2 separate regions of the Homo sapiens genome follow, and region 2 is reported to be linked to region 1. Evidence: microRNA targets listed by miRTarBase, many of them from high-throughput screens and not tested one by one. Region 1 holds a microRNA gene; the other region holds the end of a gene's coding sequence.
Evidence for each region. The annotated mature microRNA hsa-miR-30c-2-3p reads CUGGGAGAAGGCUGUUUACUCU and lies in region 1 at 2,127-2,148, opposite strand. An mRNA with a match to its seed (bases 2 to 7 or 8) in the 3' UTR can be bound and repressed. Matches are read on the target gene's strand: a 7mer-m8 pairs with bases 2 to 8, a 7mer-A1 pairs with bases 2 to 7 and ends in A, and an 8mer does both.

Region 2: the mRNA of ZNF708 is a reported target of hsa-miR-30c-2-3p. The part of its 3' UTR that is shown has no 7-base or 8-base seed match.

Annotation. Positions count from the first base shown.
Region 1 is chr6:71,374,838-71,379,377 of GRCh38, forward strand. It overlaps MIR30C2 (microRNA 30c-2), which reads right to left and starts at 2,194; the gene lies at 2,123-2,194.
Region 2 is chr19:21,290,069-21,294,113 of GRCh38, reverse strand. It overlaps ZNF708 (zinc finger protein 708), which reads left to right. Exons shown (of 4, transcript NM_021269.3): 4 at 1-2,954. The coding sequence ends at 840. It also overlaps the pseudogene COX16P1. Among named protein-coding and RNA genes, the nearest start is that of ZNF708, 37 kb to the left of the region's middle.

The DNA of each region.
Region 1 (4,540 bases):
CTTACTCTGAGAAATAAAATTTATATTTTTTATTTGTAGCTTTTAACTCAATGTTTCCATGAATATTTTGAAGCCCCCTCATATATATATTTATATATATAAATACATATATAAATATATATAAACATATATAAATATATATAAATATATATAAATATATGTAAATATATAAATATATGTAAATATATATAAATATATATATAAATATATATAAATATATATAAATATATATATAAATATATATAAATATATATAAAAATATATATAAATATATATATAAATATATATAAATATATATAAATATATAAATATATAAATATATATATATAACTTCTCAAGCATGCTTAATAATCCTACTTACTCATGTCACAAAACAGGCTAGTTAACAACTAGAACATATCTAGAAGAATAATACTAAACAAAAACCAAAATTATATAGCTTTATATCAAAGTTTTCCATAGTCAATGAAAGAAATATTCTGGAATATTTAAATACACTTGGTTTTGGAGGACAAGGCAATAAAAAGATTGAATAAAATTAGATATTTTACATAGATACACAAGATGTTTATATTTTGACACATTATATATTTTCTTGTAAGTTCCATGAGAAAAAGGACTTTGTTTCTGTTCTCTGCTATATCCCCTGTGCCTAGAAGTTCACATAGTAGATGCTCAATAAATAATTCTTGAATGATGAATGAATTTCAGCATGTATTTCAATAAGCTTTGAAACACCTACATTCATGACTAAAAGTTAACCATAAATTTAGATCTGGAATATTTGAATGTCCCCCCTTTTAATTTAGGCAGAATAATAAAATGCTATGGCAAAGCATATGCATCATTCTCTGCTGCTTAGAGTTGCTTTTCCCCTTACCCATATTATCTGCCTCTCCTAGCAGAAAGCAAAATTTCAAACATCTATAACAATTATTTCTTTGAGAAGACTGTAGAGCATTGTTTCAAAGAGGGTTTTCTTAAGCCTGTAGGCAAACCTAAAAAGGTAAATGACTCAATCAAGCTGGCACTTCAACAGTGTCTACCACTGCTTCAAGGCCAGCCTGTTCAAATACTTCCCTGAAATCACATGCTAAAGTCATTGTATTTAAACTTTTTTTCTATAAACTCATATGAAACAATTACTCCTATTGTATTAGGCTCTACAGTCAGTGCGGAGGTAAAATTAAAAGCTCCTCTAATACTTCTAAAGTAGTAGAGTGTCTTTTAGTTTAAATGACTGATATATGCTGATATGCCAAGACTAGAGTAATTTTGTTCAGATTTGTTTAATTTTTAATAGAAGCATTAAGTTAATTATTTAACTTCTTAAGGGCTTGTTATATAAAAATATGCCTTATTTAAATATTCTCTTTAACAAGAAGGCTTATTTCATAATAATTTTAAATAAATCAGCAATGGACTCAAATTTCAGGTAAGTTACATTCTAGATTAGATGTTTAATAGACCTTTGATTTAAACGATTTACATGAAAGAGTTTTTCTGGTTAAGGCTGAACTTATGAGTTCGTTCTGTAGATTTTTCTTAAAATTAACTTCTTGCATCCCATCCCTTACCTCTACATTTTCCTTCCTCTCCCGTCCTCCAACAACAATTCTATTTTTTCCTGAAATGTGTAACTATATTCTAGCTTTAAAGAGCAGACCTTATTGTTTGCCATTACAATTCCTAAAGCATGGGGCTCCAAGGTGCCTTTGATCCCTGATAAAATAGCAAGTCCAAGGACACTAGAATTTTTGCTTCAAGAAAAGCAGACTTCAGTGTGGAATGCTCTCAGGTTAAAGGAGAAATGTTTAGCTTAACGTATAGGTAATGTGTTGCTTTTACAGATCAGACTGCAGCAACCCACAAAATGTAGCCTCATACAAGTTAACCAGAACTTTTGTCACTTGGGTATTTGGTAATCTTTTTTTTCTTTTTAAACTAAGTGAAACAGTTCAAATATAACTGATATTATAGATTATCTTACATTTCTTTGGATGACTTAGTCAATTCACCTTTTTTCCTTTTACAGTTGACCTCAGAAACAAACACGGGATAGGATCAATTCTAAGACATAGAAATATTCAAAATCCATTTCTCTTTAGTTGACTTCCAAGGCAGAAAGAGTAAACAGCCTTCTCCCAGCTTTCTTACTTTCCACAGCTGAGAGTGTAGGATGTTTACAGTATCTGTCGCTCAGTGCTCTCTAGGATGGGGTTGGCAGTCAGCAGCACAAGCCTCAGGAAACCCAGTACCATTTGAAGATACCATAATATGTCACAGGAAAAGATCAGAAAAGTATACTTGGGACTAAATTATGGCTCTTTTAGGAGTAGGGTTGGAAGGGTGGGTGGGGAGGCTATATGACACTTACTTAGTGCTGCCTGCTCAGTTCTTGTTTTCTTCCTGTTTTGCACATCCTAAGATATTCCTAAGGTCTCTAGCTTTGAGCTTGCACACTCACGGATTTGGTTAATTTTGGATTTTCAATATTCTATGCTTTCCCAAAAGGGTTTCAAAATATTCGCCAAACTCCTTCCTTAAACAGTACATAATCCCTTTCTGACTGTTGGGAGACATGAAATGCAGCTTCTCACTCTCTGGGCTATACAACTTTGTTTCAGCTCACTCCTGCACAGAACTGAGAATAATGGCTAAACAGAAGACCAACAGTTTAATTACTGAAAATTAGTTACCTTAATGATGGGATACACAGTAATAAATTTAATCAAATGAGCAAAAAGTAAATATGTTAGAATACAACTTTACATGCATAAAAATGGTATATTGCAAATTGCTAATATAATGCTAAAATTATTTTAAAAATTCATATTCGGACAGAAGTGAACCTACAATTAGAGGCATACACATGAATGGAGTCAGTTGCTTCCTAAAGTTATTTTCTAAGAATGACTTATTCAAATAGTTCTTGGACTTCATTTGCTAAACTGGTCTAAGGTACACAAAATACTTGGGCGAAGAAGAAAGTCATCATTACTATACATCTCAGAACAAACCTACCTGATAAGAGACTACACTGTAAACCCAGGTGGCATATAATTCCAAACTGTTACAGGATCTTACTCATTTCATTCATTCATTCATTCATTCAACAAACAATTGTGACTGCCTGCCATATATCAGCAATGTTTTAAATTCTAGGTGATGAGAAATGAAGGGTATCATCCCTACCTTCGAGAAGGACACAGCTTAATTTGCAAGACAGACACATACACCATTACTATAAGTGTTATGATGGGTCAAAAGACACTTCTGAGTTGGCTAATAGCCAGGCTGAGTCTTGAAGCCTGAATAAAATTAGCTAGGTGAAGATGGTGCTAATGGGAATTTGGAAGGGGTGGGCAGTGAAGAAGATAGTGTAGCTTAAAGTGTACCAGAAAGAACAGTCATCCAATAGAGAAAGAAAGACAAAGGTAATGTATGCTGAGGCCTTTAAGAATTCAGCAGAGGTGGAGTCAAAGATGCATGTGGGTGAAGGGTAAGGGGAGAGACACAAGGGAAAGATGGGAGTCCTTATGTGCCAGGTTAAAGGGTTTGGGCATTATCTCCAAACGATGGGTACGAGTGAAAGATAGTAAGCAGGCAAGTGGGATGACCATGTCAGTACTTTAGAGAATTTACTCTAGCTTTAAGGTGGCAGGTAAGGAAAACAGGAAAAGAATCACTGCAGTAGTGTAAGGGAGAGCATGGGAGCCTTAATTAGGGAAGAGGCAGTAAGAACACAGAGAAAATGAATATGAGAAATTATAAAGACAAGAAGAACAGCAGAATTCAGTGAGTGAGTAGCTGAGGGGAGAGGCACTGTGGAGATGGAGAAGTCATGGGTAATTCACAAGCCTGGCTTGGGCTTCATAAGGCCTTTCATGCAGGAGGGAAAGAATAGGAAGAGAAGTGGAGAAGGAAAGAGCCCTAAGAATGATAACTTGAATGGGCTGGGCTGCAAAGTTATGACCCCATGCTCATTGAATACTGAATTCTGTCACAACTGAAAGGGTGAAAACACTTGAAGAACTAAATCACACAAACCTGTTCTTTATTCTGTTTCTGCACTTCTGCTTACTCTTCTACCTGGCAAGTGCCCATACAGTCTTCAAATCCCAAATCAAGTATTCTCTCTTGTGAATCCTCTCTGGTCAGCGTCATCCCTAACACCCACACCCCTCCCCCAACCTGAGGAGGAATTGTTCATTTTTCCTTTTACCACCATTATACTGTGCCTAGGTCACATAATTGCATATGCCTAGATCACAGAACTGATACTTTATTACAATTATTTGTTTACCTATCCATCTCTCTACTAGGGAAGAAACACCATGTTTCGTTTAACTTAACTTCATTTCATCAGAAGAAATTCACAACATGTATCCAGGGTTTGTCTGGTACTAAAGGAGGTTCTCAGTGAAGGTTTGATGAATGAATGAATGAATGAATGAATGATGCCATCTACCACCTGACAATGGGTTAACAATGTTAAGATGATTATTCAGGTTTTAAAAATCTCTAAATAAAAAATATT
Region 2 (4,045 bases), not on the chromosome of region 1:
TGTGGCAAAGCTTTTAAACAGTCCTCAAACCTTACTAATCACAAGAAAATTCATACTGGAGAGAAACCCTACAAATGTGGAGAATGTGGCAAAGCCTTTACCCTATCTTCACACCTTACTACACATAAGAGGATTCATACTGGTGAGAAACCCTACAAATGTGAAGAATGTGGCAAAGCTTTTAGTGTATTTTCAACCCTTACTAAACATAAGATAATTCATACTGAAGAGAAACCCTACAAATGTGAAGAATGTGGCAAAGCTTTTAACCGGTCCTCACACCTTACTAATCATAAGGTAATTCATACTGGAGAGAAACCCTACAAATGTGAAGAATGTGGTAAAGCCTTTACCAAGTCCTCAACTCTTACTTATCATAAGGTAATTCATACTGGAAAGAAACCCTACAAATGTGAAGAATGTGGTAAAGCCTTTAGTATATTCTCAATCCTTACTAAACATAAAGTAATTCATACTGAAGACAAACCCTACAAATGTGAAGAATGTGGCAAAACTTTTAACTACTCCTCAAATTTTACTAATCATAAAAAAATTCATACTGGAGAGAAACCCTATAAGTGTGAAGAATGTGGCAAAAGCTTTATTCTGTCCTCTCATCTTACTACACATAAGATAATTCATACTGGAGAGAAACCCTACAAATGTAAAGAATGTGGCAAAGCTTTTAACCAGTCCTCAACCCTTATGAAACATAAGATAATTCATACTGGAGAGAAACCCTACAAATGTGAAGAATGTGGCAAAGCCTTTAACCAGTCCCCAAACCTTACTAAACATAAGAGAATTCATACCAAAGAGAAACCCTACAAATGTAAATAATGTGTCAAATCCTTTAGTGTATTTTCAACTTTTATTAAAACACAAGATAATTCATACTGGAGAGAAATCCTACAAATGTGATAAATGTGGCAAAGCCTTTAACTGGCTCTTAATCCTTATGAAACAAAAGATAATTCATACTAGAGAGAAACCCTACAAATGTAAAGAATGTGGCAAAGCATTTAACTGGTCCCTAAATCTTACTAAACATAAAAAAACTTAAACTGGAGAGAAACTACAAAGCTGGAAGACATCACAGTAATTCTGACAACACCTCAAACTTTTCTAAACATAAAATAAATCATACTGGTGAGGAACTTTAAAAATGCGAAAAATGTGACAAAATCTTTAAATGATTGTCACACTTGATTGTAGGTAAGATAATTCTTACTAGAAAAACTCTTACAAGTGTGAAGAATGTGGCAAAATTTTTAATGAATACTCACACCTTATTGCCAGGAAAGCATTTATACTTGAGAAAAATTGTACCAATATAAAGACTGTGAAAAAGCCATTAATGTCTGCTCACATCTTACTCAACATCAGAGAGTACTTAAAAAAAGTATTATAAATTTAATTACTGTCAAAAAGTATTTCAGAAAATATAAGCTTTTAAAGTATTTATTTTGAAGACAAACATTACAAATAAAAGAGGATTGTAATACCTTTATTTGTATCACAGATCTTATTGTACACATTTTGTACTAGAGAAAACCCTGAAGCAGTTACTTAAACTTTGTTCAACATCAGGGAATTCAGATTGGAGAAAAACCCTGCAAATGTAATAAATTTGAAAAAAAAGTTTTCCAAAACTACAACTTAGACAACACCAGAGGGTTCATACTGAGATATATTTTTGCAGATGCAGTATATATTTAAAACATTTAATCCAAAATAAGTCTATGTAAATATCAGAGAATTCACAGTGGAAATATCTAAGGTAGGGCCGGGCATGGTGGCTCACGCCTGTAATGCCAGCACTTTGGGAGGCTGAGGTGGGCAGATCATGAGGTCAACAGATTGAGACCATCCTGGTCAACATGGTAAAACCCTGTCTCTACTAAAAATACAAAAATTAGCTGGGCGTGGCGGCACGTGCCTGTAGTCTCAGCTACTTGGGACGCTGAGGCAGGAAAATCCGTTGAACCCAGGAGGCAGAGGTTGTAGTGAGCCGAGATTGCACCACTGCACTCCAGCCGGGTGACAGAGTGAGACTCCATCTCAAAAACAAACAAACTAAGGTATGGATGCTTCAGACATTACACTATATCAAAGTGCTGACTGTTAAAAATGATCCCAAACTAACGGTAGATAAATTTATTTGTACATAACTTTAAAAGGAGTAGAAGATTTTTTGGAAGTTTGTAATTACATTCAAAGTATACTTTTTTTGTTTGTTTGTTTTCCTTGAGACAGAGTCTCTCTCTGTCGTCCAGGCTGGAGTGCAGTGGCACAATCTCAGCTCGCTGCAACCTCTGCCTCCTGGGTTCAAGCAATTCTCCTGCCTCAGCCTACTGAGTAGCTGAGATTACAGGTGCACACCACCACGTCCGGCTGACTTTTGTATTTTTAGTAGGGACGGGGTTTCACCATATTGGTCAGGGTAGTCTTGAACTCCTGACCTCATGCTCTGCCCAGCTTGGCTTCCCAAAGTGCTGTGATTACAGGCTTAAGCCACAGCGCCCGGCCCAAAGTGTTCTTTTTTCCTTGAAAAGAAGTACAGATTTTTTAAAAAGCTAATATTGCTGTGATTCAACTCTCTAGTTACTTGATGCTATTTCTTCATTTCTATTGTATTCACATGTGAAAGCATGTGATCAGTTGTCACGGCATCAAAGATAGGAGAGTTTCTTTTTTTTTAGGTGGGCATTATTTATGACCTTTTCTTTGGAAGAGTAAGGACATTAAAATGTAACATGCATGATGAAAATCTAAGTGGAGATGGTATTTGTGGTTAATTATGATATTGAGTGGTGCATGAGGTAGGTGTTTAGAGTAATATTCTTTTGCATTATAGTAAGAACATTTAAGTTTTGTTAAAATTAAAAAATTAGTACGTTATTTTACTATTTGTACTTTTATGTAATAAAATGCAGTACATTTTTAAATTTTCAGATGATGTGTGAACTTGTTTCATTATACATTTTTAACATGTTAATACTATTGTGCATTCAATGAAGCATTATTATGCCACTAACTGAAACCTATCCCATTTACTCAAAGGTGTAGGTAAATGATAGTAAGAATATACTATTTGGTAATGTAATCAACTAACATCTCTGGTAATCTCCTTTGCCAGTGGCTTTCAACTGCAAATAAGTTTAAAAAATACTGTTTCCGTAGGTTAAATTTTTATTATTTTTTCTTGTTGAAATCTGTTTAATTTTTTTTTTTTTTTTTGAGACAGTGTCTCGCTGTGTCCCCCAGGCTGGAGTGCAGTGGCACGATCTCGGCTCACTGCAAGCTCCGCCTCCCACATTCACGCCATTCTCCTTCCTCAGTGTCCTGAGTAGCTGGGACTACAGGCGCCCGCCAACACGCCCAGCTAATTTTTTGTATTTTTAGTAGAGACGGGGTTTCACCGTGTTAGCCAGGAGGGGCTCGATCTCCTGACCTCATGATCCGCCCATCTCGGCCTTCCAAAGTGCTGGGATTACAGGCGTGAGCCACTGCGCCTGGCCTAGATTTTTATACAACGTGTAGCAAATACAAAATTTGCTAGAGAATATATTTTAGAAATCAAAATTTTAGGAGTTCTAATGGTAAGTAAAGAATTTTAAATTTACTTTTCTGTAATGTAGTGTAACTTAATTTCTATGCAGAATCTTCTACTTTAAGAGTGAATGTTAAACATGGCAAAATAATAAAGTGACCTCTGTGAATTTGAAATTTGAGATAATATTTCTTTTCCATACTGATATTACAATTTGAAGAAATTTCCAGTTCATATAACTTTTTTTCAGTGGGTGAAGTTCAGTCTACAGTTTTTTTTTGTTTTTGAGAAAGAGTTTTGCTCTGTTGCCCAGGCTGGAGTGCAGTGGCCCAACCTCGGCTCACTGCAACCTCCGCCTCCCAGGTTCAAGTGATTCTCCTGCCTCAGCCTTCCAGGTAGCTAGGATTACAGGCATGCGCCACCACACCCAGCTAATTTTTGTATTTTTAGTAGAGACCAGGGTTTCCCCATATTGGGCAGGCTGGTCTCGAA